Linked DNA regions of Homo sapiens: region 2 is linked to region 1. The links come from fine-mapping of genetic effects on gene expression. A gene starts in region 1. The other region holds a variant in brackets. All regions are shown on one strand. Distances are from middle to middle.

What was found.
Region 2: its variant is fine-mapped to the expression of CALB2 in atrial appendage (GTEx, PIP 0.98).

The regions. Positions count from the first base shown.
Region 1 is chr16:71,350,874-71,366,870 of GRCh38, reverse strand. It overlaps CALB2 (calbindin 2), which reads right to left and starts at 8,148. Exons shown (of 11, transcript NM_001740.5): 1 at 7,985-8,148. The coding sequence starts at 8,078. RefSeq lists enhancers at 6,131-6,425, 7,452-8,417 and a silencer at 8,120-8,349.
Region 2 is chr16:71,399,425-71,415,421 of GRCh38, reverse strand. It overlaps LINC02136 (long intergenic non-protein coding RNA 2136), which reads left to right. Exons shown (of 3, transcript NR_146574.1): 2 at 427-557; 3 at 4,888-4,981. Among named protein-coding and RNA genes, the nearest start is that of LINC02136, 19 kb to the left of the region's middle. RefSeq lists enhancers at 2,736-2,825, 2,899-3,400. The variant A/G (reference allele first, on the strand shown) is at 6,106.

The DNA.
Region 1 (15,997 bases):
CTCTAAAATGGGCATAACTATTTATGCCCTCTCTACTTTACAGAGTTATGGTGAGAGCTGTACAAGGTAATGTTGTGGAAGCATTCTGAAAGATGTAAAATCTCACATAAATGGAAGGAACAAATATTGCCTTCCATTTATACTCCCTCCTCTTAAGTTCCTCTAAATCAATTTATAGATGAAAACCCGTTAGCCTGAAGAGTTCCAGCACCACTGCTTTCCTTAGAATACTGGTTCTCAAGCCAGGTGTGGTGGCTCACGCCTGTAATCCCAGCACTTTGGGAGGCTGAGGTAGGTGGACTGCTTGAGGCCAGGAGTTCAAGACCAGCCTGGCCAACATGGTGAAACCCCATCTCTACTAAAAATACAAAAATCAGCTGGGTGTGGTGGTGTGTGCCTGTAGTCCCAGCTACTTGGGAGGCTGAGGCACGAGAATTGCTTGAACCCAGGAGGCGGAGGTTGCAGTGAGGTGAGATTGTGCCACTGTACTCCAGCCTGGGTGACAAGGCGAGACTCTCTCTCTCTCAAAAAAAAAAAAAAAAAAAAGGCCAGGCACTGTGGCTCACGCCTGTAATCCCAGCACTTTGGGAGGCTGAGGTGGGTGGATCACAGATCAGGAGATTGAGACCATCCTGGCTAACACGGTGAAATCCCGTCTCTACTAAAAATACAAAAAATTAGCCGGGCGTGGTAGCGGGCACACGTAGTCCCATCTACTTGGGAGGCTGAGGCAGGAGAATGGCGTGAACCTGGGAGGTGGAGCTTGCAGTGAGCCAAGATCCTGCCACTGCACTCCAGCCTGGGTGACAGAGTGAGACTCCATCTCAAAAAAAAAAAAAAAAAAAAGAGAGAGAGAGGGAAGAAAACAAAGAAAGAAAGAAAAAAGAATACTGGTTCTCAGTTGAGGCTGTGTATTAGGATCACCTGGGAATATCTGAAAACAACATTGTTGCCTTGGCCCCATCCCCAGAATTTCTGATTTAATGGATGGGGGGAAGGGGGTGTTTTCAAAGCTCTGCAGGTGATTCTAAAGCTCAGAACAGTAAAGGCTTGGAACCGCTTCAGAGCAGCATGTCTCAAACTTTAGGGTACATAAAAAGTACCGTAATAATCTCCACTTATTAAAGTGGAGATCCTAATTCAGTAGGATTGGAGCATAACGCCGTGCTGTTCAAAGTGCAGTCTGTGGACCAGTAGCATTGGAACTACCTGGGTGCTTGTTAGGAATGCAGAATCCCAGGCCCACCTTGGACCTACTGAATCTTTCTCTGGGGGGTGGTGCCCAACAATCTATGGATCACACTGTCTTGGTGATTCATCAGTGTGCTAAAATCTGAGACGCATTTGCTCAGTGGTTTTCAAATTTTGGTCTAGGCCAGACATATGAGTGTCACTTGGGGGCTTCTTAGAAATGCAAATTCTAAGGACTACAGAATCTGAGTCTCTGGGGATGGGGTGCAGAAGCCTGTGTTCTAAGCAGCCCTTCAGCACACTCAAGATGTTGCGTCCAGTCGCTTCTAGTGCACCAGTCTGTGTAGCACTCGCAGTCCATAGATTAGAGAGGTCAAAGGAGGGAAGGTTCGCACCTTCCTCCTTGAGCTGCACCAGAATTTCCTCGTTAAGGAATTTCCTCGTTAAGCTGCACCAGAAGGCATCCAGGAGGCCAGGCCGCTTGTCGGTCTATCTGGAGTTCAGATTTATCGAAGGCAAACAGTCCTCTAACCTCCATCTGGAGCACCCTCTGGGACAGTCAAATCCTACCCTTTGGGGTAAGAAATTGGCTTCCCCAGGCTCTGCCCCAGTATTAATCCTGCTTTGCTTGGTGCGCACCATTCCCAAAAAGCTTTCCACTTCCCACCTCATCTGTTCTTTACGACCCTGCCAGGTAAGCAGTTATCAACCCCATCTTAGAAAGGAGGAATCGGAGGGGGAAGGAGATTCAGCCACAGCTGACAGAGGTCCTGGCCTCCTTCTATTTGTCCCAGGGACAATGTCTGTCCATATCTGCATTTGTCCTGGCTTCTCTCTCTGACACACACACACACGCTTCTTCCAGTGGCTTCTGGAAAAAAGAATAAGCCCCAGAGTGAAGAGCTACCAGCCACCAGCTGAATGTTTGGGCACTTGAATTTCAATCTATGTTTCTGGGCTGTGCTGCTTTGGACCCGTGGTTCTGGAGCTGGGCTGGGTCCCCTGAACCTGTGGACATCTGGCAGCCTAATGCTGGGCTGAGTCCCAGGCATGAGGGAGGCCAGAAGGATAGGGCAGATTGGGTGAGAGGGGAGATAGTGAAGAGCCAACAAGGACAGAGGGAGGGCTGAAGCCAGAGGCCCCAGATGGGCCGGCTTGGCAAAGGAGGGCCTGGGATGCAATCCGCCGGCAGGCTGGGGCTGGAGAGGCACTGTTCTTGAAGAGCCTCAGGCCTGCTCTATTAATTCTAGCTCCTTTGGTTTTGGAATTGATTTCCCTGAGGGGTCTCCTTAGCCCTGGAAACCTCCCTCAGGGGCTTGGCTGGTAAAGCTGCTGAAGTCTGGAGGGGAATATACAAGCTGAGCAGGGCAGGGACAGCCGGCCTGGCTGTCAATATCAAGGCAATGCAGGGCTGGCATCTTGTTTGTGAAACGGGTCCCTTAGGCGGGCTCCCCCGGGGAGCCCCAGCTCTTCACAGACCAGCTGCTCCCCGCTGCCGGCTGGTGCAATCAGAGTCTGAGAAGCAGAGCCATAGCAGGCAAGAGCCCACCTGGAGGTACCCAGCGTAGAGCTGCTGCACGTGGACACTCCACAACCCAAGGACGCTGTTAGTGAAAAAACTGGGGAGTTGGGGGAGGGAGCAGAGGCAGGGGTGGGGGACATTTTCCAGGGCCTACCCCAGATGGGTCAGGCGGCTGTTCCCTGAGAGCCTCATATCCTGACATCACGCCACGCCCAGCTGAGAGGTATACAGACCCCCAGAGGTTCACTAACAGGGTTCAGAGAAAGCGCTCCTCTGACAACTTTAATCTTGGTTCCCAGTGTCGGACCCTGTTGATTTTAATGGGCCAAGACCCAATCGTTTTGATAAATCCTATGATTACCTTATAGCATTGTAACTGTTGTGTCATTTATATAAACACTTAATATACATCACATATTTTGTGACCCTATTTCAGCATGTGTTTCACTTTGGTATTGCAGGACCTCTCATGCAGCCGCCCAGGGCCAGTTGCCCAGGTTCCCGTTCATCTCTGAGAGGTGCTGCTGTTCTAAATTTCCTCCCCATTCCCTAAACCAGGGACAAACAAATGAGCAGTGACCCGTGCCCTGGAAGAGCCTGCCTGGGCACTGCAGTCTGGCCCTGAGTGGTCCTCAGTGTTGTGTGGGCTTGGAGAAGACTTCTGCCAGGTCACTGGGTTTCAGAGGGCGAGGATGGGAGCCTGCGTAGAGCCATCCTCAGCCCTTTGTGGCCTCTGTTGTTATTTTCAAAATCCTCAGGGTCCACATAGATAAGGAACAGGACTCAGTCCCTGTGAGAGGCTTTGAGCACCCCCTACGTCACCTGGGCCACTTGGAGGTGGACAGAAGCCCAGAAGAGTATAGGCAGATCCCCCCACCTGGAGACATATACATATTTCTTACAAGGGAAGAAAAGGTGTCTATCACATTGTTTTCTTCTTATATCTTTATTTATTTAGTTAGTTATTTTTTTAAAGATAGGGTCTGGCTCTGTTGCCCAGGCTGGAGTGCAGTGGTGCAATCATAGCTCACTGCAGGCTTGGACTACCTGGGCTCAAGCCATCTTCCTGCCTCAGCCTCTCAAGTAGCTGGGACTACAGGCGTGCGCCACCACACCTGCTTAATTTTTAAATTTGTAGTAGGGGGAGGGGGGGTCTCACTGTATTGCCCAAGCTGGTCTCGAACTCCTGGCTTCAAGTGATCTTCCTGCCTTGGCCTCCCAAGGTGCTGGGATTATAGGCCTGAGCCACTGTGCCTGGCCTCCCTTCTTATATCTTTATTGTTTTGCTGACTACACAGGAAATAGATGCTCTTGTAAAATTTTCAAGTGCTATGGAAATTAACTTAGAAAGTAAAAGAAAATCCCCTTTCATTTGGCTCATCCACTCTTCAGAGAGAGCCGCTATTATTCAGTTGTATTTTTCTAAATATCCTGCAACATACATATATCATTCATAATAAAAACGGGCTTATAATAGTGTTCAGCTACAGTTTTAAACAATATCTTAATAATACATCTTGGACATTTTTCCATGTCACTACAAAAGCTTCACTTCGCTCTATCATACTCCATCATAGGGATGACCATATTTATTTTTCTGTCCCCCAGTGAAGCACATTCTCCCCTCCACCCACTGAAATTGTTAGTATTTCCGAAGAACACTGTAATAGACATGTTTGTTCATATAACTTTCTGCGCACATACGAGTATATCTATGTAGGCTAGATTCTTGGAAGGGAGTAGGATGTTCACCTTGGCCCCATGAATGTCTGCTTGCCCCTGGAAGAGAACTCATCTTATCTTTACATTCTTAGTTGCTTTCAAAGGGGTAGCAAAAGCTAAGGCATTTCTCTTTGGAGCCACAACTTTGCTGCTCGCAGATGGTCAGTAAAATAGGAGCCCGGTGGCCTGTCTAATCAGAACCATAAATAAAGGACAGTGTGAACTCTGAACTGGGCATCCCTCAGCCACCTGGATCCTTTAGAGGGGGAAAGGTCCTGATACAGAAGTGTCCAGGAAGCAACAGAGCAATGGGCTCAGATACGTAAGGCCACGTCAGGGCCACTCGGAGCATGGAGGTGATGTTCGGAAGAGCCCTAGACCCCACCAGGGTCACTGGGTGGGCTTGGCTGTCATCTTCCCTACCTCAGCCTTTGAGAGACAACATTGGAACCCTCCCAAACGCATGCTCTTGGCTGACTGCTGAGGCAGAGTTGGTGGAGTGGTATTGCGGACTAGGAGACCAGATTCCTGGTTCCCCCTTCACCTCTTCCTGCTTTGCTGTGTGATCTTGTGAAAAGAATTTTGCCTCTTTGAGTCCTAGTTTCTCACTCTCCAAACATACACTTCTTCCTTTCTCTACCACAAAGCTAATAAGAATTTTGAAAATAATCCAACTCTTTAGGGTGATGGTGGCTTTTTCTGTTTTGGAATGGGCTAAGGGTCCTCCTGCCCCCATCCTCCCTCTCGTTGGGATTCAGCTGCCTCCTAAGGTCTCTTTGTCTTTGTTTACTACCAGCCAGCATCCAGAAGGGGTGGGGAGGTGGCTCCAACTCTCTGGGGGCTGTGGTTAATTGGGCTCCAGCGAGCCCACTCCAGGGACCTGGAGAGCTGCAAGGGAGAGTTCTCTCAGGTGTTTTTAAGATTGTGAGTGGTAGGGGGTACTCTTAGAATTGGGAAGAAACCCCATGTTGAAAACGGAAACCAGAATTGGTAGGAGAGAGGCCTAAACAGGGCTGGGAGTGCCTCAGGCACTGCGGTGTTGGGCTCACCTGGCAGCCTTTGGGTGTTCAGGAGGGGAGGAAGGTCGCCCAAAGCCTAATTCTGGATCCTTTTGTGGAATTCCGATTTGGCTGTATACATATCTTCCTAAGTCACCTCTCTCTCATCTCTGGTATTTTAATCCTCATGGCCCTCCTTCTCTGTCGGGTCCATGGCCTTTCCTTGGGACTTCCCTGAGGCTGTGATGTAGAGATGGCAGTGGAAGTCTGATGGACAAGGAAGAAGGTGCAAGCATCAAGCTCCCCCTTCACCCCGGAGCAGGAGGGAGCCAGAGGCACAATGGCTTTAGGAGGCTTTGAAGATCATGGGTTTGGTGGTAGCTTAACTACACTCTAGCCAAGCCAAGGACCCCATTTTGGGATACACGAAACTGCCCATCAACCCCAAGGGTGGGCTGGGGGCTTTTCTTTGGGGGAATGGGAGGGAGACTTATACCTATCATCATGGAAAAAAACCCTCTTCCAAACCAAGCAGGTGTTCAGGAACCAGAGTGGGAGAATAAACGCTGGCCAGGAACCAGCCCCACCAGTAACTTGCTCCATGACCTCGGAAAAGTCAACCCCTGTGTCTGTTTCCTCATCTGTATAAGGGGAGTCATGGTCTGCCCAGCAGCCTCACACCTTGAGAAGGTGCAATTGTGCTTAAGTACAATGTCTCAGATCAACGTAAGGATCTGCGTGGTTATGGACAGTGCTCTTGCTTGTCCCTCTGAGAATGGGGGAAAGTAGAACTATAGAGTCCTCTGTTTATAGCTGACTCATCTACCAGGAAGCCAGTGGTGTAACCTTGGCTGCTTGGTAACTTTCCTTGAATCATGCAAGTCTGGTGCAGATAAACTGGCAGGAGCCTCCTTAGGGAATGTGCATGTCATCTGGAATACTAAAAGGCTGCACTTCTCTTAGGAGAGCACTTTGTACCAAGGGAATTTTATGGCAGGAGCTGGGGATTGGAAACACAATCCCTCCTTAGCCCCATTTTACAGATTTAACAATCTACCCACTTCCATCAGTAATTCATAGGCAGATCACAGTCCTAACTCAGGTATTCAAATGCCTAGTCCCCTACCCCTCTAGCTTTCTCAGTTGGCTCCAAGGAAACAAAATTTCACCCATTAGCATCCCCAGACATTAACCCCTGCCTCCCCATAGCACTCTGGGCAGAGGATCTCTGCCCAGCCACCTCCACACCCTGCCAAGGCGAGGAAGGGAGGAGGGAAGAATGGAGTGAGGCACACCTGATGCCCCTCTGTTTTCCATCCCCCTTGCTCTCAGACCCCAGGATAAACTCCCTGTCATCCCACACAGATCTGGGACAGGGGCCTGAATGACAGGTGTCAGAGCCCACAAGGCTGAGCCTGGCCCCCTGGGGGGCTGTGCAGTGCAGTGGTTAAGAACTTGTCTTCTGGAGACAGCATCTGTCTTAGCCTTTCCCGTTGGCCTCCCTTTGGGGTCAGCCCCTCCAGGAGCCATTAGCTACCCGAGGGGAGGGTAGCTACAGACACCACAAAATGTCTGAGATGCCAGGATATTTTGGATGCTCATCTTAGCCAGGTCTGTGCGTAGAGAGGGAAATCAGATCACTTATTTTTTCGGAGTAACAGAAACAGAGTCTCTAGTGATATCAAAAGCCTCTAAAGGAGGACCACCCTTTATGCCTGAGTCAGACCACCACAGACACTTGGAATCCCAGTGCTGGGGGCTACCTCCAAAGGTCATTTGGTCTGGCCCTTGCTTTTTGGGTGAGTCAGTGTCAAGACCACACAGAGCAGAGGGTTAGTCACTGAGGCACTTAGGGTGGTGCCTCCCCCTACCCAGAGATGAAGTCACCAAGAGTACCCAGGATTATCACTATGAGGGAACAGGTCTGGGACTGGCACCCCAACGCTGCCCGCCACCACACCCACTGCTGCTGTATTGGGAAACCTACATGCCCACGGCGGCTGGAAAATGGACAAAGGAAGCAGGGGGGTGTTCAGGGCCCCCAATGCCATTTTCCACTCCTGCTCCCAGCCAATCAAGCTGGGGAGGCCACGTTTCCCTTCAGGATCCCCTAATTTATCCCAGCCTCCAGCAGGGTAAGGGGGCTAACCTAGCATTCAACAAAAGGGGAAGAGGAGGAAAGAAATGAGTGGTCTTCTGAGACCTGTGGCTGGAGCAGCTGAAGGCAGGGGAGGTGGGGGAGATGGCAGGGGGAACCTGGAGGCCTTCCCAGCCCAGGCCACCTCTCTGAGAAAGCTCCCACTTGCTCAGAATAAAGGTGCAAATGCGGGTGGGCTCTGGGTCATCTATGTTAGGGAAGAAAGTTACTGACAGTTGTGCCCAGAGCAGCCGGATGTCTCCCAAACCCGGGACCACTACCCCAGCAGGCTCTGCGACCAGACCACCTCCTGAGGGCAAACGTACACCTGCCCGCATTCAGCGCCGCCCCCTGCCCCCTTCACCGCAGGTCCCCTGGGTGCCAATGGGCACAGAAGTTGGGAGCTTTACTGACCGTCTGCGTCAAAGTGCTTCCATATTTCCAGGAACTGGGACGCCGTCAGCTCGGCCAGGTGCAGGTAAGGGGGCTGCTGCTGCGGGCCAGCCATGGCGAGCCGCTCGGAGACCTCAGCCTGCACCGCTCCCGCTCCGCGCCGGCTGGGCTCTGGCACTCGCGCTGGGGTTGTGCGCCACGCTGCCCTTATATACGCTCTGGAGCCTGCGCCTGCGCCCGGCCGCCAGAAGGGGGCGCGCGCGCTCAGGGAATCCGACCGGGGCGCGGCGCGGCGGGGGCGGCGGCGCGAGAGGCTCGGCCCGGACTCCTAGAGGGCCCTTACCTCTGCGCTGAGACCCCTCGGCGCGGGGCCAGGGACACCCGGAGGATTTTCGGTGAAAATGAGGGAGAGGCTGCCCTTGCCTTCCCTCCCGACCGTCTTGAGTACATCCACCACTTATTATTGCTGGCAGTAGCAATAATAATAACAGCAGTAACAACACTAATAGTAATACTAACACAAACTTGACAAATATTTAGCACTCGGGCTTCGGAGTTCACTAGGTCTCTGTCGTGCCTCCTCTCTTCTGATCCTTCCACAGCAGGAAGAGCTGGGACCACTTTTCTGATGAGGTACTTGTGACTTCAGATGATTAAGTGACTGGCCCAGCAAATTAGTGGCAGGGCTACAATTTGAACTCAGCACTCTTTCCACGCCGCACGTGGCTCCTTCATGGGGCTCAGTCTTGCAGAGCAGCCAAGAGTTCTCAAGGCTTTAGTGGGGAGCAGCTGGAATCAGCAGTGCCCCGGGAGGATTCCGATGGAAGTGGTGTGGGGTGGGGGTGGGGGGCTTCCACTGTCTGTTTGGGTCTTCGTATATCCGTCCCCTCGGAGCCTCCCTCCACCCCTGGTACCTGCCTCACGCTGGCCATGCTCTGGGGGGCTTTTAGACATTTGGCCAGGGGGTGGCAGAACTAGATCAACCCGTACCAGGTCTTAACCACGCCCACCTAGGGACATCGTGGGAATGTGCCTGCTCCAGTGGACAGAGAACAACGTCCAACTCTGTCTTGGGGATGTTCTGAGCTGGTCTCAGAGAAAATAGACGCAGCTACTGAGCGCACATCCTGAGGGCAGCAGACAGGACTCCCCAGCAGGGAGCTGGGCCCTCTCCCCATTCTCTCCTGCGGTCTGAGCCCTTAGGGGTCTGTCCTGGCCTTGTGGTGTGGTAAGGTAAGACACATTACCCACAGAGTGACAGCATCATCCCTCCTTTCTCCCCTCTCCTGCTACGGAGTGACTGAGACATGAATTGGCGATCTTTAACATGTGCTAATGAGTGTTAGCTGAACCACCTTCCAAGAGGAGAGTGAAAGGCAAGGAGGTAAGTGAGAATGAAAAGGAGGTCGCTGGGGGAGAGGGGAACCCAGGAGGAGACAGAGAGAGGGTTGTCCCTTGGAGAGAGGGCCAAGCCCAGAGCGAGTCTCAAAGGGGCAATAGAGAATGCAGGTTCCAAAACCACTTGTTCTTTGCCTAGGGTGAATGTGTTTAGAGTTACTTGCAGGAACAGACTGGGGGGAGAAGTCATCAAAAGCTAGCTTTAGAGGTACCCATCCACCTTGCTGAGAGATTCACCAAAGTCCCTAGGGAGGCAGGATGACTCAGTGGTTAAGAGTAGGCACTCAAGAATCAGGCTGCTTGGGTGTGAATCCCAGAATAAGCTGTGTGACCTTGAGCAAATTATATAACCTGTCTCTGCCTCAGTTTTTCTCTTCTGCAAAATGGGCATGTGGGCATACGCCTTTTAGAATTGTTGGCTGGGTGCCGTGGCTCATGCCTGTAATCCTAGCACTTTGGGAGGCCGAGGTGGGCAGATCACGAGGTTAAGAGATTGAGATCATCCTGGCCAACATGGTGAAACCCAGTCTCTACTAAAAAAAAAAAAAAAAAAAAAAAAAAAAAAATTAGCCAGGCGTGGCGGTGCATGCTTGTAATCCCAGCTACTTGGGAGGCTGAGGCAGGAGAATCGCTTGAACCCGGGAGGCGGAAAGGTTGCAGTGAGCCAAGATCGCACCACTGCACCCCAGCCTGGGCGACAGAGCGAGACTCTGTCTCTAATAATAGTAATAATAATAATAATATAATTGTTCTGAGGATTAAATGAGTTAGGGCTCCTGCCGCCCTTCATGGAGCCAGTGATCAGTGGTTGGCTTGGCAAGAAATTTCTCAGTCAGCATCACCTCCCCTGGGGTAGCTAATGAATGGATCCTGGAGGGGCTGACCCCAACGGGAGGCCAACGGGAAAGGCTAAGACAGATACTGTCTCCAGAACACAAGTTCTTAACCACTGCGCTGCACAGCCCCCCACGGGGCCAGGCTCAGCCCTGTGGGCTCTGACACCTGTCATTCAGGCCCCTGTCCCAAATCTGTGTTGGGTGAGAGAGCTCATCCCTGCTTCTCCAAGAAGCAAAGCCAGTGTCTCCATGCTACTTTGGTTTTCCTGGTGAGGAGTAAAGAGTGAAGCTCCTACTTCCTGCTTTCCAGAGCTGTTGAGATCAGGGGGACATGGTTCTGGGTATGACAGTAGGGTGGCCACAGTGACCTTTAAACTGTCTACTGGGACAGTCTTGCCTCGTTCATTTCAGATGCACAGTTGGTCTGTTTCTGGGAGGCCCATTCCTGGAGGACTGAGGAGCCCAAGCTGGTGCGTTTGTGGTTTATCTCCAAGTTGAGTCCTGCAGAAACAGCCACATTGAGCAGTTACAAGTTCCTGCCCTGGAGTCAGATAGATATGGGCTCAAAACCCTCTTGCTGGTTGTGAGGCCTTGGGCAAAGCTATTTAACCTCTTTGAACCTTTCTAAAAATCAAGGTAATTAGTTTCACAAAGTCAGTGGAAGCACCAAAAAGAATGTAATCAAGGGGTTAGCTAGCAAGAACCCCAGCAGCCGTAAGTGCTTAATTAATAGGCAGGTATTCTTACCAATGCAAGGATGTGAGGAGGGATTTTTCTTGTTGTTCTGAAATAGTGGCAGTTAGGCCACATCTGGAATCACAGCAATCAGATGCCTCGTGTCTTCCTGGCTTGCTCAGCCTGCCCGCCACCACCCACCAAGGCCAGGGATTATCAGGGGAGATGTCTGGGTGCGGGAGAGAGGAGCATTGGCCTTCTGGGAGTGCAGCATTTGTGGCTGTCCTGAAGTCAAGTTTTGTTGGAGGAACCCCCAGAAATCCCCTTCAGGTTGTGGGGGATTTCAGCAGCAAGGAGGAACTGGAGATGTCACCTGGCTCCAGAGTGGGCTGGGGTGAGCAGTGTTCTGGAGTTTGGGCCACATATGGAGTTGGGACTGGCGCTTGCTTCTGACTCAGAGCTGTCTGATGGCCTATGAAAGCAGCTTAGACTGCCCTGTCCTGCGTCTAGAAGGAAGATGGGAGCCACCATGGTTCTCGGCAGCCCTTGGGGGTTGCTATGGCTCCTGGGAAAGGTGCATATAGTTTAAAGAGGGGGCCGAAGCCAGATACCTGCTGGTGTTTATGATATCCTCGGTGTTGAGGAAGCTAGAGCGGAGCTGAAGACCGCTCCAAAAAACCTTCACTCCACTATGCACAGGCCCTCAAATTCCTCAGAGATCAGCAGCGGGAGCCAAAGCCTGGGATGCTCTTACAACCTGCAAGCGACCAGAGAGGTAGGAAGACCTCCCGCCCCTCATCTCTCCTTGCAGCTCCCTCTGCCCTACCAGGAGGGGATGTCTTAGAGCCAGCCATCCCTTCTCTCCAGGCTCAGCTCCAGACCCAAGCTCCTTGTCCAGTTTGCAATGGGAAAGGAGAAGAGCTTTGCATTGGAGAAGAGACTGGAGTCTTAGCTGGACTGGTCCAAGTTTCAATAACCAAATGTGTGAGGAGAAACATGGACTCAGATAAGAAATCATTCAGAGATAGGAAAGAGAGGTTCGATGAGCGTATTTTAAAGCAGTGACGGTAAAGACGGAACATTTATGAGCACATTTCCGTGAATTAAGGCTCTTGTAAGTAATTTCAGATGTCTGGGGTTCTGCTTCCCTTCCAGGACTTCCCCTCGAGTTTTATTACAATAATGATAATGATGATGATGACGACAATGATGGCGATAACCGTGAGGATACCTTTAAATGCCTTTACAGAGGGTTTTGATGTGTCTTGCTTTGTTTGGTCCTCACAACTCCCCTATCAGGTGTGCAATGCAAGAATTTGACCCATTCCAAAGATAGGGAAATCAAGGCTCAGAGAGATTAACACCCAACCAAGACCTGGGAGGGGTGGGGTACCAAGAACACTTTGTCCCCTCCAGTTTCCATGGTATATGGAGTCTTTGTGGACCAGGTGCCAAGCTCCTGGGCACTATGTATAAAGTTCTTCCCGGACCCTGGCCACTGGAGCCACAGGGCCCCTCCCAGCGTTAAGGAGTAATGCCAAGCCCACTGTTTACCCACCAGTTCTCTGATGGCTGGTTCCTCCCTCCACCAGAAGGGCAAACTGGGGACCACCTTCACTTTCGCATCCCCAGCCCACCAGCTCATTTGAGTGCTGTGATCTGACACCAAGGATTGGCAGGGAGACTTGCCCAACTGTCCCTCTGCCCCAGGACCCTAGAATCACTCCCTCAAGAAGGGAGGGAGGCTTGGTGACTGAAGTGGTGAGATGTCAGAGGACAGATGACAAACAACTTTCCAGCCAGGATCCACTGGGCTTCGGTAATTGGCTGAGCTCCTTAGAGCACCTGGTGTTATTTTGGAGCACTTCAAAGGAAAAAATACGAAGCCTGACCTGGTACCTCCCTATGCCTAGAAGTGTTTCTTCCAGATATTGCTTCTTTGGTTTTTATAATGGTCAGGCCTGGCTACCGGAGTGCTGGAGAGCTGGCCTTGCTTCCCAGAAAGGAGGATGAAAGGGATGCAGGAGCCCAGCAGTTTCCATGGAAACGGACTGAGGTGGTGGAGAAAATAGAGAAACCAGAGGAACCCAGAGGTGGAAGCAGGACTTGTGAATAACCCGGTCTGAAACTTGAGATCTATGGACAGCTCCCTCTGTGCAAAGGATTTGGGTCACCAGGATAGCAACAGGAGGTGAAATAGCAGTAGCTGGGGGCTGTTGGGTGATCCTCCCTCCGCAAGCAGGGACACAGGGGCTGAGGGCTCAGGCTCCAGAATTCCACAGGCCCCTTTCAGCTCCTGGATCTGCTTTTTATCGGCAGTTCTACTATGTGTTGGCTTTGTAATCCTGGGTAAGGTGTCTACGCTCTCTGAGCTTGTATTTCCTCATTGGTAAAATGGGGATAATCCTAGTAACTGCCTCACAGGCTTTGTGAGCATTAAGAGAGGTAATGCATGTTAAGGGTGATGCAAGGCCTGGAACAAAATAAGCATTCAAATGTTATTACAGGGGAGAAAACCGAAGGCAAGTGATGGTGAGTTTAATCCAAATGAGTGCAACCCATCTCCACCCTGGCCAAAGCAACTGGTTCAGGGATAGGCAATGAGACATCATATCCCAGAATGCAAAGGAGCTACTGGGACCTCCTGTCTATTTGCAGACAGTCTGGTGTGAAGCTGTGAGGTCTGGAATCACTGCAGCTATCTTGACACCATGAGTGCAGAGCCTGGAGTGAGGGAAATGGGAGAGAGCACAGAGTAGACACTGAGGTTGAAGCCAATGTTGCAAAAGGCAGAGCAGAGAGACTGCAAGAAGTCAGGTCACAAGTGACATCATTTGAACTGCTGGATCAAGCTGAGCCTGAAGTACCTTTGGACTTCTCAGTTGCACGAGTCAATATATACCCTTTAGTGTTCAAGCCCATTTATGGTAGGTTTTCTTTCATTTGCAACCTAAAAGACCTGACTGATAATCCATGAAGAGGACAGTTGTCCTCATGGGAGCTGGAAACAGGCAACCTTTTGGAACCAAATTTCTCTGTCCCTCTTTCTCTTAGAGCACAGGGCCACTCCTTCACAGATTGTCTCTGTGTGCACTGTGCCTCTATTTTCTTCTCTCCCTCCCAGCAGGCATCCTTACAACCTTGCCCTTTACAGTCACCAGCCACAACTTGTCCCCAAGACTCCTCTACCTTCCATTTCCCCTGACAGCCTTGCCTCTGTTTCCATATTCCAGACTCCCGAGAGAAAAATCTGGTTGGTCTAGCTTATCTTTTCATGTGAAGCCATTCAGATCATCAGCTGCTGTCCTGCCTTGCAAGGCCGCCTAGGGTTGGACACCCATCTCTTAGTCCAATCAGCTGTGGCTGGGGACAAGTCTCAGGAGGGCAGTGGGCAGCACAGAGAGGGGCCTATTTCCCTTAGGGACATCTATGGGCATGGTGAAAGTAACTGACACCTCTAGTGTTGGGTGCTCAACACAGAAAATTCAAACAAGCTGCGGAACATGTTTGCTTTAACATTGGGTGAAAAAAAAACATTCGGACAAACGAATTCAAATATAAAAGGGAGAGTCTGGGGGAAGGGTGTCATCTAAAACAGGAGTTGGCAAACTTTTTTTTTGTAATGGGCTAAATAGGAATTTTTTTTGAGGGGGGCTGCTTCGTGGGCCGTAGGTTCTCTGTCTCAACTACTCAACCCTGGTATTATAGTGCAAAAGCAGCTATAGATAATATGTAAACAGAGCAATATGACTCTGTTCCAATAATACTTCTTTTAGTAGTAGTAGTAATAATAATAATAATAAGAAGAAGAAGAAGAAGAACTTGGTGGACCTAATTTGGCCTGTGGGACATAGTTTACTGGCCCTCATCTAGTAAATGAATTCTAGGTTCTCTCTAATCCTAATGAAACCTGTGTAGAAGGATTGTTGTAATGATTCCATAAAATAATCTATGCAAATTACCTAGCACCGTGATTGGCACAGGGTCGATGGTGTTGGCTGTTTTTGTTCTCTTTTTTGTCGAGTGGGCTCTCGGAATAACTGGGTTCCAGATCCACCAATGTGCTTGGCTAATCTAGAAGAGTCCCTTCATCTTCTCTGAGCTGAGCTGGAAGTTGATCATATCACTCCATATAGTGAGATGGGATTTCTAAGGAAAGGAGGTGGAGGACGAAGAGAAAGGTGCAGGCAAGGAGGACACAAGGAAATGTAGCGTGCATGAGTGCAAATCCACAGGGCGTCCGTGTGAGGCCGGCTTGGCTCTGCCTGGGGGCCTGGCAGGGAGCCCTGGGCTTGATTTGCAAACAAATTTGCTCTATTTCCTGCCAGAACAGGACTTCCAGGTGGCCAGGAATTTGGACTCCTTTACTAAGGATGGGAAAAATGTCCCTAGAGGGACAGTGCCCCACTTCCAGGATTCCCCAGAATGCAGCAGGAATGTGAGAATGAGATGTTCAAAGATAAGGGCTGCATTTCATTCACTCATGAATTCATTACAAATTTTATTCATTCATGCTGTGTAAAAAATATTGATTAGCCAGCTACTTTGTGCCAGGCACTGTACTAGCAAAACAGAAATGATTCCTCCTTTCAGGAGTTTAAAGTCCAGTGAGGGAGACAGACATTGATCAAACCACACAATCACACATATAAGTGAAAACAGAGTGAATATCAGGGAGCGACCGTATCTAGCATGAGTAGGAAGCCATCCTGAGAGTGAACTAACCAGGAGGAGGGAGGAGGTGAGCATTCCTGGATTTAAACCCCATGCACCAAGGCTCCGTGCTGGCAGAGCTGTAAGAAAGCCAGAGGGATGGGAGATCAGTGGGACGAGTGGGTGCATGGTGGAGGTGACCCTGGAGAGGTTGGCAGGGCCAGACGCTAGAGCACTGGGAGCTATCAAAGGGTTTTCTGCCAGCAACAAACATAACCAGGATTATGGTCTCCCTCTGGCTCCTGTGTAGGGGGTGACTAGCGAGGAGTCTAAGTGGACACAGGGAAACCTATCAGGTGACTCCCGAGACTGTCTGGGAAACACGGCCGTACCTGGGCCTCCAGAGGGGCAGTGGTCATGGAGCAAAGTGATCAGGAACTTTGTAGGCAGAAAATAGGATTTGGCCATGAGT
Region 2 (15,997 bases), 49 kb before region 1:
TCTCATCTTTCAATTGGGGAATGGGGCCGGGTGCGGTGGCTCACACCTATAATCCCAGCATTTTGGGAGGCCAAGGCGGGTGGATCATGAGGTCAGGAGTTTGAGACCAGCCTGGCCAATGTGGTGAAACCCCATCTCTACTAAAAATACAAAAATTAGCCAGGCATGGTGGCGGGCGCCTGTAATCCTTGGGAGGCTGAGGCAGGAGAATCGCTTGAAACCAGAAGGTGGGGAGGTTGCAGTGAGCCAAGATCATGCCACTGCACTCCAGCCTGGGTAACAAGAGCAAAACTCTGTCTCAAAAAATAAATAAATAAATAAAAATTTAGAGAATGAATCAAGGCATGACTGTAGGACCAAACGAGTTCACATATGCAAAGTGTTTTAATATGGTCAAAGCATTCAATAAATGCTGCTGTTAATTAGGAGGCAAGAAGAGATTGAAGGGAAATCTCAAGGGGCTCCAGAGACTACTACGATGGTGCAAAGTCACAGAAGCCCTGGGAAAAGCAGGTAGAATGGAGTTGCCATGACATTGAGCCTCACCTAGATGCCAGGTAGGTAACACGCATTATCACAGGTGAGTCTCACTGTAATCTCACAAGGGAATTTCTATGGTCATCCCCACCCCACAGTGTAACAAGCTCAAGGTCCCAAGAGTATGACCTACGTTTCCTGTTCTGGACCTTAAGTTTTATTTATTTATTAATTATTTTACTTTTTTTGAGATGAGGTCTTGCTCTGTCACACAGCCCAAAGTGCAGTGGCACGATCCTGACTTACTGCAACCTCCGCCTTCCAGGCTCAAGCAATCTTTCTACCTCAGCCCCCCAAGTATCTGTGAGTACAGGCATGTGCCACCACACTCGGATATATATATATATATATATATATATATATTTGTGTGTGTGGAGATAGGGTTTCACTAGGTTGCCCAGGCTGGTCTCAAACCCCTGGTCTCAAGTGATCCGCCTGCCTCGGCCTCCCAAACTGTTGGGATTCCAGGCGTGAGCCACCGTGCCCAGCCTGGACCTTAAGAATGAAATCATCCTTGGGTTAAAGGCTGGTCTCCCTTAGAGATGGTTGTTTGCAGGTCACCTTCCAGGGGCTAATACTCTGGCAAATGCTGGTGACCTTGAGATGAATGAGCCTTGATCCGTGTACTCAGTGAGCTCTCAGGATGAGGGTTCCTGTAGCCTCTCTCTTCATTGCATCATCTCCAAAACCTGACAGGACTGATGCTGGAAGGTCTTTCCAAGGCCCAGACTCCTCTCCTGGCTCAAACACTTTCCATGGCTCTCTGTGGCCTCCAGCCCAGGGTCTGAATTGGTTCTACCTGGCCAAGTGCTCTGCCTGCTTTTAGGGTCTGGTCTGTGCCGCGAGCCCCTGTCCCATCCCAGCTTTATCTCCCACAACTTCCCAGCCCTTACCTATGCCCTGGTCATGTGGATCCTTTCCTGTATATCTATACCCTTCATTCATCTTGGTCTTTTGGTCTGAAATGCAGCCCCCTCCTCCACTGGCCCCTGAAACCTAACCCACCCTCCTCCTGCACTGCCTGGACTGCAGGAAACCTTTCCAGGCTACGTATCCAAACTAGTCTTTTTCTCCCTCCTCTGTTTTGCTAGATTTAGAGATGGTTCTAGTACGTGACTCAAGGTAAGAGGTTGTGTTTGACTGATACCAAGTGCGTCTGTCCAGAGTTAGATATGAGGATAGAAGTTCCTTGAGCCAGGGATGGTATCTTAGCTATCCCTGGGATCCCCACAGGACACGTGCTAACAGGGAAATTCAAAGACCCCACCAAACTCCTGCCACCATTTCCTGCCCTCTTGTGCCCAGGCCCACCTCTGGGTTGGAGGAGCAGGGTGCTGTGGGAGAAGGTGCACTGGTCCTGGAGTCAGGGCCTTCAGGTTTGTGCCATCCCACTGAATACATGGCCAATGACCTTGGGCAAAGGGACTCCTGCCTCGGGGCTTTAATCTGTGCATCCACAGACTGTACATATGGCATTGGACCAGGACCTCCCTAGTGCCTTTTTGGTAAAGAGGACCGTAAGTTTCTTAGACTTTTAATATGCAGATGAATTCTCTGGAGAATCTGTTAAATTGCAGATTCTGACTCAGTAGGTTTGGGGCAGGTCCTTATTTCTAACAAGCTCCCAGGTGACCTTGATGCTGGTGGTCCGTGAGCCACGCTTTGCATTAACAAGGGTCTAACCCAGTGATCCTCAGCCCTAGCCCGATAGAAGAATGGCCTGAAAGGTCGCTCTTTCCCTCCTCCACTGCCTTCTGCATTTTAAATTAAAGTTTCCCTTGGGAGATTGTAAAAAGATGTTAGGATGGCACCCCAGGGCCATTAACTCAGCATTTGTAGGGGTGGGAACTTGGCATCGGTAGTGTTTAAAGCTCACCAGGTGAATCCAGTGTGCAGCCAGGACTGGGAACTGATTTACCTCGTGGGTGGAGAACTTTAGCAAATGGTTTTCAGGCGAAGCTTTTTGTCTCTGCTGCCCCCTTGTGGTCATCTTGTTCACTCACAGTCAGAGCGCAAGCCCTGTTCCCAAGAGAGATGGGAATCGCAGAACAATTGGGAAAATAATGTCGCTGCCCATGGTGGACGGGCTTCCCTGAGACCCCAGCACTCACCCTGACATGGGTGGGCTCCTCCTCTGCCGTGATGCTGAAGACGATTCCTTAAACAAGGGCCTCGCTCCCAGTGTCCTGGGGGTAGCCCACATGAGTAGGAAAAACTCTGGGTGGGCCAGGAACTGGAAACAGCAGGGGGCCCTGTAGTCGGCAGCTGAGATAGAGGTTGGATAGAGCAGGTCCAGGAGAAACTTCCTAGGAGAAGGTGGGCGCTGAACCCAACCCTCAGCTCTCCTGGGCGGGAGTCAAGAGAAGTCTTAGATGCAGACGTGAGGTTTGGGTTGCTTGGCGGTCAGCCAGCAGGGGGCACTCTGGCGCCACGTAGAGTTCCCAGGTCGGGTCTCCTAGTCTTCGTCGTCTTGACTGGGAACTGTCCACCCCGGTGCAGGATGCCCCAGGTGCAGTGGAGCAGCTCAGAGCCCCAGGGCGTGACTGTCCGCAGCTGGCTGGCTTCCCTCTGTGCCAGGTGCAGGGTCAAGGATATCCCCATGCACAGAGCCTGCCGTCAGTGGTATGAGGAGTATGAAGGTTCTGATGCTGCTGCCCATTCAGAAATGCAAAATGGCCCAGTACCTTGAGCACAGGTCTAGTCCCTACTGTGCCCTGCCTGGCTGTGTGATCTTGACACATTCATCTCCCCTTTGTGGGCCTGCTTCTCCCTCATCCAATGCATCCCCCAAGCCATCCTGGGCTGTGGTGCTGCTCCCCAGACAACAGGGAGTTGGACTCATGGTTTTGGGGGGCTCACATTGCCCTTAGGGGGCCAGAGTCAAGGGAATCACCTTTTTTTTTTTTTTTTTTTTTTTTTTTTTGCCTTCTGCTGTAGGGCCTGGTTCTGGGCTGGACTTTCCCCATCCTCTTCCTGAAAGCCACCCTTGTTCAATCATGGGGACAAGATACAGTCCAGGAAAGGAGCTAGGGCCCTCCTAAGAGATGATCCCGAATAGGGCCCAGCTGTGGACAGGATGATCTCTTTTCCAGCCGGGCGCCATGGTTCATGCCTGTAATCCCAGCACTTTGGGAGGCCGAGGTGGGAGGATCACTTGAGGTCAGGAGTTCGAGATCAGCCTGGCCAACACAGTGAAACTCCTTCTCTACTAAAAATACAAAAAATTAGCTGGATGTGGTGGTGCATGCCTAGAATCCCAGCTACTTGGGAGGCTGAGGCAGGAGAATCACTTGAGCCTCTGGGAGGTGGAGGTTGCAGTGAGCCAAGATTGCGCCTGGGTGATAGAGTGAGATTCAGTCTCAAAATAAAATAAAAACGCCAAATCCCTTTTCTGTTAGTTGTCAAACACACTAGACATCAGGACACGGTGGTCCTGGCTACATGACTGCCTTGTAACAGTGAGAAATATCCAGAGATGGGATGCATGTTAGAGTTGAATGGGGTTTGTCCCGGGGAGAGAGGGGAACCAAAGGAATAGCAAGAGGGTGGGGAGCTTAGCTTTAAAATAATGTTTTGGCTGGACATGGTGGCTCATGCCTGTAATCCCAGCACTTTGGGAGGCCGAGGTCAGGAGTTTGAAACCAGCCTAGCCAACATAGTGAAACCCCATCTCTACTAAAACTACAAAAATTAGCTGGGCATGGCGGCACATGCTGTAATTCTAGCTACTTGGGAGGCTGAGGTACGAGAATCGCTTGAACCCAGGAGGCAGAGGTTGCAGTGAGCTGAGATCGTGCCACTGCATTCCAGCCTGGGCGATGGAGTGAGACTCAGTCTCAAAAAAAAAAAAAATGTTTTACTCATTTAAAAAATTGGTCTGGTGTACCTACGGCAAATGGGTGGGACTTGCTAAATCTGGTTGGCTGTTGCTTTCTGAAACACAGATTTTAGACTTGAATATATGCATTTGCAAACTCTAAGACATATGCGCCTCTGAACACAGTCTGGGTGAATGCAGTTTGATTGTCACAGGCTTCCGACAGAGTTGCAGGTGTTGTATTGCGTGGTTTTCAACAGCAATCAGACCAAAAGGGTGACTACTAGCATGTGAAAACAGAGGATAAGCTTCCTGGGCTCAAACTCCTGAGCTGGAAGTCAGTTCCAGGCCATAGTGTCCAGCCAGAGGAGGACAGCAAGATCGACTCCTGCGTGACCAGTAGCTCACCTGGTCCAAATGTAGCCTCTTACTATAAAACAAAGGCAGAGAGAGACTGAGGGAACTGGAAAGAGGTTCAATGGAGGAAAAATAAGGCAACCTCAGGGATTCACTTTTACTCTCATTTCATTAAGTTCCAGATATTGGCAGACTGCTGGCCTCCTGAGGAGCACAGGAAGGGGCCTGGCAGACTGGTGATCCTGGTTGGAGATGAAGAGGGGCTGATTAAGAGGAGCTGACTGAGGCTGGGAGGTTTCCTGCCCGGGAGTGGCGAGCCTGTCAGAGCTGCACCTGGGCCTACCTGTACCTAGGAGAGATTCAGGGTATGGTTGGCTTCCCACAAACACCTGGGGCTCGAGGAGTGCGCTGCCTCTGTTCCACACCTGATGTGATCCACATCCACGCCCATGCACCTGGCCAGGAGAGTGACTGTCACTGATGAGGCAGTGTGATAGTACCTCTGATGGTTTCTCTGAGATCAGCCTTTGCACTTCACCTGTGTGGGCCAGATGGAAAGCCAGGGTGGAGACGGAGCACCCTGGGTCAGCTGGGATCCCACCGTGCGATTCCACGGCATGGGGTGTCAGAACCTGGAGTGCCGGTGGTGGCCAGAGCAGGGGTGGGGTGGCATTCCTGTGTCTCTGCCACTCACTGGCTGTGTCACCACAGAAAAGTCATCTAAACCTCTCGGTGCCCCAGTCTTGTTCTCTGTCCATGGCAATTCGGGTAGACCTGACCCGGTTGGATGGCTCTGAGGTTTCAATGAGGTATCATACATGCAAATGGTTTTTTTGGAGCCAGGTTCTTTTTATTTAAAAAGATTTTTTAAAATGGGAATACTCGCTAAAAAGAGTACCTGACCTCAGCTGGGCACAATGGCTCACACCTGTAATCCCAGCACTTTGGGAGGCCAAGGCGGGTGGATCACGAGGTCAGGAGATGGAGACCTGTAGTCCCAGCTACTCGGGAGGCTGAAGCAGGAGAATCGCTTGAACCCAGGAGGTGAGATTGCAGTGAGCTGAGATCACGCCACCGCTCTCCAGCCTGAGTGACAGAGCGAGACAAAAAAAAAAGAAAAAGGAAAAGAACCTGACTTCAGTATCTTTGGGTGTCTGGGATTGAGGAGTGTTCCTGAATGGGCATCAGGGATTGATGAACACTTGTGTAAGAGTTAAAGAAAGAGGAAAAAAACATGAAATTTTTAAAGACAGGTTTACTTTAGATAAAACCTGGAGGGGCTTCTGGCCGATTTTGGTCAGGGGCGCTTTCTGTTACAGACTAAAAGTATATATTGGTTTTAGGGTGAGGGTCTTATCACAAGCTTGGAATGTTTTTGGGTCAGGGAGAAGTCT[A/G]TAGCCGGGTCGGAATGTTTCTGGGCAGAGAGGAGGTTATCTTGGGGCTGACGTCTTTCCGGCAGGAGGGAGGTTAGTTATCTTGGGGCTGGCATCTTCCCAGCCAGAGGGGGGTTATCTTGGGGCTAGCATGTCTCTGGTTGGGGAGGAGTTTGGAATGTTTCTGGTCGGAGATGTTATTTGTAGTTTCTGGTCATGCCGACCTTAGCCATTAGGCTGATGCCTTTTGGCTTTAGGCGGTTTTTGATTAAGATGAATTTTAAAATAAGGTGCTTGTCCACAATGGCAAGGCCCCTGCTCTGTCACCTTGCCCCCCAAAATTGCAAAGCTTTGTTTCTGTGTATGCATGTATAAATATTTTTTTTTCCCTTAGGAGCAAAGGCAATAGCTTAACTAAGATGTTCAGAGGGATCATGACATAAAGACTGGATGCCTGGGGTTGGGGTCAGGGGCGTGTTTCAGGTGCCTTTATTTTATACCAGAGTTTCCCAACCTGGGGAATCTTGCCATGTGGGGCCAAATCATTCCTTGTTGTTGTGGACTGACTTGTGCATTGCAGGGTGATTAGCAGCATCTCTGGCTCTACCCACTAGATACCAGTAGCACCCTCCACCCCATCCCCACCTCGTTTCACCAATAAAAAATGTCTTCAGACATTGCTCAATGTCTTTGGGGAGGTGAGAGTGGGACAAAATTGCCCCCAACTGAGAACTGCTGCTTTGTGATGTTCCTAGTGGAGTTGAGCCCTCGATAAGTGGTTGTTATTTGCTGTGTTGAAGTTTGGCAAGATTTCTCTTCTGGGCTTTATTGATCTCTTCCTATTTCTGTGCACTGCTTAAAGGGAAAGTCGACGACTACAGGGCTTCCAAACTGCAGCCCCATTGGATATAAAGTACGAGTTCCTTAATCTGGTAGGGCAGCCTGATCAACTGGAACTTGGTTCTTACTGTGTTTCTCGTTATGCAAACCTTAAGGATTCCAGCCTGGACAACATAGTGAGACCCTGTCTCTACAAAAAAAAAAAAAAAAAAAAGAGAGGAAAAAAAAAAAGAAACGAAATTCAGCAGAGCCCAGTGGCATGCCCCTGTAGTCTCAGCTATGCAGGAAGCTGAGGTGGGAGGATCACTTGAGCCCAGGAGTTCAAGGTTGCAGTGAGCTATAATTGTGCCACTGCACTCCAGCCTGGGTGACAGAGTGAGATCCTGTCTCTAAACAAACAAACAAACAAACACCCTAAAGGTTTTTGAGAGCATTAAGTGCAACATAAACCTTTCAGTCCTTTACTATTAAAATATGAGCTACAATTAAAATGAAACAGTTAATTTTGTGGGGAGCAAGATCTTGAGATAATCTTCATTTGTGGTGAATACATTTCTGTTTAACCACAAGCCTCAGAATTAGTAGTTCCTCATTCAGAGGAAAGATCAGAGAAGGGTCTTATGGAGAAGGACCAGCAGGAGACAGAGGTGGAAGAGTTGGATGCATTTGAAGTCTCCACTATTTAGGAGGTGGCCTAAAAGATCCTGGGGAGTGGGTGGGCACCTCCTTTTGGCACCCCGGATGTGAGGAGGGTCTCCAACACTGATTTTGGCTGCTGCTTTGTTGCACCATCCTCTATGGATGGTTCGGCTCTTCTCTTGTTTGGCTTCTTATACACCTGCTCTAAAATCTCCCCAGGAATTCCATACAATTCACAGAAGTGTTGCTGCTCTGGAGTGAGAAATGTTCCTCCAGATTTTGGAGAAACTTTCTTTCTGAATGTCTCCAGAGCTTGCTTCGGAGCAGCCCTTCAGTCACAAGTTTAGCAGCATAATAATTCCTCCTTGCTGAGGTTGTCCCAGGAATGACACAGAGCACCAGAAGCAAGCTTTGGAAACACAGCTGGTACAACAAGGAGCGCCTCTATGCCTTGGCGTAGAGAAGCAGGTTCTAGTTTTGCCCTGAGTTGGTTGATGGCCCCAGGTATCACATGGAATATCTTTCTATTACAAGAATCAGCATGGAGTTGAGCTCTAGGACAAACGTCTCAATGGTGTTGGGCATGGCCATTGGAGCCTCCTTTCTGATCATGTAGACCTGGGCCATCATTTGTGCAGCTGGTCCTGTGAACTCGGTGCTTAAGATTCCAATTAGCACCTTGCGATAGCATGGTTGTGCCACAGAAAAAGGTAACATAGGTGGAGATGTCCAGAATTGGGCGAGGTGTGTGCACCGTAGAAATGCTGCTGGCTGTTTTCAAGGCATTGAAGAAGCTCTCTGCAGAGGTGGCTATTATCCCCGGACTCTCTAAATAATGATACTAGAATGTCGGTTGCAGCATGATGAGACCAAATCAGTGTGGAAAGTCATCACCGTTTCAGATATTCTGGTTTCCTGTGAGTGTTGTGGTCACAGTGCTGGGGTTTCAGATTTGGAGTCAATTGCAAACACGCCTCCAAGGATACCTCTCTTAAAGCCAGGCACGCTGCACAGAGGATTGTGGTGCAGATTATCCTAGCAGTGTTGAGTCCTCTCATTTGCTATGTATACAGACAGCATAGCCAATGTTGAAGCACGTCCAGCCTCCAGCCTCCACAGATGGGACCCCAGTCTCCTGAATCTAACTCAGGAGAACCAGGGAGGGAGGCTGAGGAGCTGTTGATTGGGCTGACACTGGATTCGCCATCATTTTGGGAACCGGGTTGGTTCCTCTTTGATACTTTGACACGGTACCTTTTGTGTACTTACCTGCAGAAGTGAAGGTTGCAGCAAAGCACAGATGCAAGGTCAGGAGAGACCCCAGGTGAGCCCTGGGACAAAGTGGAGGGGCTTCCCCAGCAGGCGCAGTCCCCAGTTGAGGTTGAGCTCCCCAGTGAGGGATGAGGACTTTGTGGCTTGGCTCGTGATTGGTGGTGGGAGGAAATAGTTTGGTGGCAGTCTTTTACAGTGGTCAAAAAGATTTTTTTTTTAATCTCAAACCTCAGATTATTGTCTGCATATACCTGCTCAGGCAAAAGGAAGTCCTTATTTAGGGAAAGCACAGATTGTGTTTTTTTCAAGAAGGTTTAAGAAGAACCCTAAGTGGGAAGAAGAAGAGGCTTAGGAATTCCTCCTGGTGGGTGGTGGTCTCCCTTGTCATGGTGTGATCATGGAAATCATGGAAACCATGGGCAGCCTCTGATGCCCAGCTCTTTAGAGGAGAAGGGTCTCTTGTATGTATTGGTGGGGCCTCAGCTGTATCTAATAGGAGGTAGGTACTGCACTGGAGGCCTCAGATGGCCCTAGGAACTAGTCTTGAGGCCTCCAGTCTACACTGGGCCCCTTCAGCAAAAAGAGAAAGACCTCACAGGTTGGCTGTTGGTGGTGGGAGGAAGACCTCACCCATGTGGGTGTAGGGCCAGAACTCTGGTGGTCGAGGGTATCTTCTGGGAAGTCTCTGATGACTGTTACTTCTCAGGGCTGTTTGGAGGGACACAGTTGGTTGAAGAGTCTCTCTTCCTTTGTGTATTTGCCCAGAAATGTGTCTCAAGTGACTCTGTGGCAAGAGCTCTTTTTTTTTTTGTTTTTTTTTTTTGTTTTTTTTTTTGAGACGGAGTCTCGCTCTGTCGCCCAGGCTGGAGTGCAGTGGCGGGATCTCGGCTCACTGCAAGCTCCGCCTCCCAGGTTCACGCCATTCTCCTGCCTCAGCCTCCCAAGTAGCTGGGACTACAGGCGCCTGCCACTACGCCCGGCTAATTTTTTGTATTTTTAGTAGAGACGGGGTTTCACCGTTTTAGCCGGGATGGTCTCGATCTCCTGACCTCGTGATCCGCCCGCCTCGGCCTCCCAAAGTGCTGGGATTACAGGCGTGAGCCACTGCGCCCGGCTGGCAAGAGCTCTTTTAACACCCTGTGCCATGAAAAGGGGTTTGTGGTGTTCTTGTTCAGAATGCAACTTGGAATTGTGTCAGGCCTTTCTTGTATTTCTCACTTTTTATCCAGGTCTTGGATTTTCTGTTTGTTTGCTTTAGATTCTTCAAGCAGCCTCTGCTCTTGCCCCTTGCTGATCAGGTGTCTGTCCACCAGTGGGACGTTTTGCCAGTGACCTTCTTGGAGGCCTGTGAGGGTGTACTTTCATTATCCAGATGAGCATTGATTTGATGCAGGGAGCACTCAGCCTCCTTTGCTGCGATACTTACACGGTCACTCCTGCCCGGCTGACCCATCCTCTCACTCGGGCCTGGAAGGCCGCATTGTTTTCAAACCTCCCTCTTTCTTCCTGACTTTGTTTGCATTGCAGAACCATGACTTGCTGTAGACGGCGTCCTGAAGGCTTGTGTGAGGTTCCTCTTGAATTTTCAGGAGAGCGTTGGCTGTACCTGGGCCTCCCTTGTTCTCCCGGCTGTGGCTCAGTGACACCTCTTCTTTCCATCTGGAAGGGAAGAGGACTGCCTCTTTTAAACCACGGTGGACAGTGTTTTGCCCTCTGGGTTCATCATGAATGGATGTGTCAGACTTTGTTCTCACCCTGAGATTCAACTGCTTTCTGACTTGTGCTTTGGATGCTGGGGAGGGTGAGGCAGGCAAGATGAGGGCAGTGAGTGATAGCAAATGGCACCAAAAATTAGGGTATTGACCCACCAGCTCCTGTCTCTCATTGGTTGTGTTGGATATAAAATACTCCAGGAATAAATGCTCAGTGCCGGGAAGTAAAACCACACGCAGGCAAAAGTTTAATCCTCTCAGCAAGGCAATTTACTTCTGCAGAAGGGTGTCACTTGTGTCAATCAAGATCCCAAGTGCACACAGAACAAAGGAGACCAGGGGGTTTTTATCTTTAACACAGTCCCTATCTCTGTGTCACTCCCCCAGGAGCTGGGGTTGGACCACACAATCTGAGCTGACCCGACTGGCTACTTGTACATATTTTCCTAAATATAGCAGAGGAGGGGGACATGAGGTACAGAGGTGGAGCTTGTGAGACGTGCAGTTTCTGGGGAACAACTGGTACAGGTAACCAAGGGAACAGATGTGAGTTATTGATTAGAGCTGATGGGAAGGATTAGGCTGTTTACGGTAACTAGGGCCAAGGAAAAACAAAGTTGAGTTTGAGAACAAAGGATAAGGAAGTTAACAGGCTAAACCTTTTGAAGAGAAACTCAGAAAGATTTATTGTATCTTACAGTTGAGACATGCTCTGGGTGAGGGGGCCTCCTCTCCAGGATGTGTGGCCTCCCTGCCCTCTTGGGCCATCTCTTTCCCCTGCCATACTTTTGCCTGTGTCTCTGCAGCTTCTTAACAATGACTGTGGCCATGCTTTGAACTACTTGGTTCTTGATTAAATATCCTGTTTTCTGAGCAAATATCCTGACTTCCGTGATTTTCATAAAACCAGAGGTTAAGGAAAGTCACAGTGGAAAGGGAGTCCATTGCGGCCTCCTCCTCCAGGACTCCCAGGGCCGCCTGGTGAGTGAGGCGTCTCTCCCCAAGGTGGTGTCTCTGGGCACAGCTCACAGCCCTTAGGCCTCTGCCCTCTGGGTGCCCACAGCAAGCCCTGGCTGACCCTCCATCCTATCCCACCGTCCCTGCCTTGAGTGACCAAGGACAACTGCAGCAGGGCCAAGGGCTCTTGGGATTTAGGGTATAGCTCTGTGGTCAGGCAGGACTCTTTAAAACTTTAATTTTTAAAACTCATATCTAAAACCCTTGCTTTTCCTTCACCTTGCATTTCAGTTTGCAATTTCTGTTCTGATGAATTTCAGCAAGCTCTTCGGGGAAGCTGATGAGATTCTAGGTTGCTTTCAGAGCAGTTAGTGATGAGGCTGACGACGTCCCCTGCTCACAACAGGACATGTTAATGGGTCCCAGGTTGGAGATAAACTCTTGTCTCCACATTCAAGATGGGGCAGGGCTGGCTTCAGGCCCTGAGCTTGGTTTAATGCTCTGCTGCTGCCTTAATTATTAATTAAATGATTATTAATCATTTAATGTCTAATGACTTTTGAAGAAGAAGGCCCCACATCTTCTCTCAGCACTGGGACTTGCAAATCATTTCCCTGGTCCCAAAGAGGACAGTCCCAAGGCAGAAGCCTGTCCTGGGCCAATTGCTGGGGGCCATGAAGGCCACGGGGACCAGCTTGGCTGAGACAGAGGCTGGGCTTGAGGAGAGAGCAGAGGGGGATAGAGGGAAGATGACAAAGTGGAGACAGAGGGGCTTGCTTACCAAAGGGGATGGATAGGATGAGAGGCCGGCGTTTTGGGTGGGATTCCAGAGGGCAGGAGCATTGCTGTGATTTTTTGCCATCTCGCCAGACGGGGCTCATGTGTGCGGGCAGGGGTTGGGCTGCCTTTGTTCCTCACCTTACCCCTGGGTGTGAGTACAGCACAATGCACAGCCTGTACTAACGCTCAAAAAAAAAAAAGAAGTTGTCATATGACAGCTCGTGACAAAAAAATGTCATCTGAGCAATGTCACAGCTGCACCGTATGACAGTAAGGTGTGTTTCTTTGACAAGCAGCAAGTTTCCGGACAGGAGTGCTGGTTACACAGAAACCAGGGAAGTCGTTTGGTGTTGATGACGAGTGTTTATCTCCATTGCTGGCTTAAAGTGAAGGAGCATGTGCCCTTCGGTCAGTGTCGGTGGGATTGGACCCTGTGACTGCTCTGTGCCTTTGGAGAACCTTCTTCTCTGGGCTCCTGGCCCCTCATGCTGGCTTCTTCGTGTGTCGCTGCTGGGTTCATTGTTCCTCCCTCCCCATCACCCTGGGTACAGGGCTGTCTAATGCATGCACCTTGAACATGTGCCCTTACCAGGAAGAGGGTGTTGTGAGTCCTGCCATCCACTTCTGTCTCCTTCTGCCTGCGTCTGCATTGCTTGTCGTGCTTCCCATTTGGCCAGCGCTCCCGCTCTGTGCCTGCAACTGACCCAGTCCTTTAGTCAATGTCAGTGGCCTCTGATCAGTGTGCTCGCCTCGCCACTGGCCTTCCCTATCCTGCAATGCTGCTCCTTTGGTGACAGACTCACCCCTGCTCCTCACCTTGTGTGGGTTTGCTGGAGAAAATCCTCCCAGATGATGCTGGGAGCCCAGGGGAGGGTCTCTGGATGGCGTCAGCTCTGTCCTGGGGAACTGCAGCTGCAGCAGGGCAGGGGACCAAGGGGGCTGTTGTTCTGTGGGAGGGAGGGTGGAAGCCTCTGATGCAGAGGGTGAGTTAAGCACACTCCGCAGTACATGGTAGGTCACGATCAGGGGGTCTCTGTGAGGTCCCTCTCTTGTTTTATTCCCTTTGAATGAGATTTCTCACTCCTAGGCCTCCCTCTCCCACTGCAGGCATCGTTCCTCTTTGTCTTGGGTGCCTTTAGAAAAATGCTCTAACAAAGCACTGTGGCTGTTTTGCATGTAGGCACTTTTAATTCACATAGATGGTATCATTCTGTATTTCTTCTCCTCCTTCCTTTCTCAATCAATGCTACATTTTAAGGTATGACCTTCCTTTCTACGGTCTTAAAAACTTACTGAGATTTCCCAAAGAGCTTTTGTTTATGTGGGCTAATGCTATTGATGTTTACTGCATTAGAAATTGAAAGGAGACACTTAAAAGAATTCATTTGAAAATAGCAGTGATGGGCCCGGTGCGGTGGCTCATGCCTATAATCCCAGCACTTTGGGAGGCCGAGGCGGGTGGATCACCTGAGGTCAGGAGTTCGAGACCAGCCTGGCCAACATGGAGAAACCCCATCTCTACTAAAAATACAAAATACAAAATTAGCCGGGGGTGGTGGTGCATGCCTGTAATCCCAGCTACTCAGAAGGCTGAGGCAGGAGAATGGCGTGAACCGGGGAGGTGGAGCTTGCAGTGAGCCGAGATCACGCCACTGCACTCCAGCCTGGGTGACAGATTGAGACTCCGTCTCAAAAAAAAAAAAAAAAAAAAAAAAGGAAAGCAGTGATGGACTCATTGCATGTTAACATAAGTAACATTTTGGCATTATTATGAAAATTGTTTTGACCTCACAGAATTCCTGTCCTAGTTAACTGTTTGTTTTAGAATATGAAAGGGCACTGTGAAGGACAAAAATTGGAAAGTGAATTTTATTCTTTTTGTTTTATAATACCTGATTCTGGAAAGAAACTATGAAATGTATTACATTTTAGTAAAATCTGCTGTGGTTTCATGAGCTTGCCTCCTTGGTTACTGATGGATACCACTGCCTAGAACAGGAACGGTTATTCTGGATAGCAAAGATTCTGTGTCATACCAGAATACTTTATAGTGTTTTATGTTTAATTTGTAATGCCCTAGAATAGGACACAACAAAACTTCCTTGCTCATGAACAAGCTATACGTATGCTTCTTTGTTTATTTTACTTATTTTGCAGTTCATGCGTGCATAGGCTTTTTAAGAAATTGAGATCTTGTTCGCCTTTTTAAAGAGTACAGGTCAATGGTTTTTAGTATATCGCTAGGGTTTGCAAACAGCACCACCATTTACTTCTAGAACATTACAAAAGGAAAGCCCACGCTCATTAGCACACACTTCCTGTTACTCTCTCGCCACCCCTAACCCCTTGACAACCCCTGATCTACTTTCTGTTTCTGTAGATTTTCCCATTCTGGCCATTTCATATAAATGGAATTGTACAGTACGTGGTCTTTTATGTCTGGCTTCTTTCACTCAGCATAATGCTTTCAAGGTTCATCCATGTTGGAGCATGTATCAGGGCTTCGTTCCACTTAGGGCTGATTGACACTCCATTGTACGGGTATACCACATTTTGTTTTTCCATTCATCAGGTGATTAGCATTTAGATTGCTCCCACTTGTAGCTATCATGAATGATGCTAGGAACATTTGTGTGTGAGTTTTTATGGGGACGTATATCTTCAATACTCTTGGGTCTGTTCATTTTTAAATGCTTTCTTATCACTTAATTAAATGAGTCACCAAAGATTGTTTCTCAGCCACCCATGAGCACATATTAATCAAGCATCTAAATCTCTGACAACTCTTTAGATGTTGCCTTGCGAAATTAGACAGGAAAAAAAAAATGAAAAGGAATTTTCGGGATATCTTTTACACCTACAATAATTTCCCAGAGGAGCGTTGGAAAATCGCCGAGATTTGTTCTTCCACCTTATGAGAAGAGAGATGCTAGGTTTCTTTGATTGCGTTCCTATTATAAGATTTACATGAGAAGAATTGTCAGATTGGAAGAGATGCTCAGCCTTCCCCAGGTTAAAGTTATGTAGACAAAATGTTATTAATGAATTATTAAATATTTTAGAAAATGTGTGTTTTATGGGAAGTCCCTGGCGATTTGTCAATGCCCTCACCACGCAGAACTTCACCCTCAGGAAAAACACAGATCCAGACTGTTGTGAAATAGTTTAAAAGAATTCTTTTGAAAATAGCAGTGATGGACCCATTGCATGGTAACATAAGTAATATTTTGGCATTATTATGAAAATTGTTTCGACCTCGCAGAATTCCTGTCTTAATTGTCAGTTTGTTTTAGAATATGAAAGGGCACTGTGAAGGACAAAATTTGGAAAGTGAATTTTATTGATGTTGTTTTATGATACCTGATTCTGGAAAGAAACTATGAAATGTATTACATTTTAGTAAAATCTGCTTGCCTCCTTGTTTACTGATGGATACCACCTGAGAGAGAAGTTTACTCTCCTCCATTCTGACATTATTGGTTATAGTAATCAATTAACCACAGCTGCGGGGCGCGGTGGCTCACGCCTGTAATCCCAGCACTTTGGGAGGCTGATGCAGGCGAATCACAAGGTCAGGAGATCGAGACCATCCTGGCTAACACGGTGAAACCCTGTCTCTACTAAAAATACAAAAGATTAGCCAGGCATGATGGCGGGCGCCTGTAACCCAGCTACTCGGGAGGCTGGGGCAGAGAGTGGTGTGAACCCAGGAG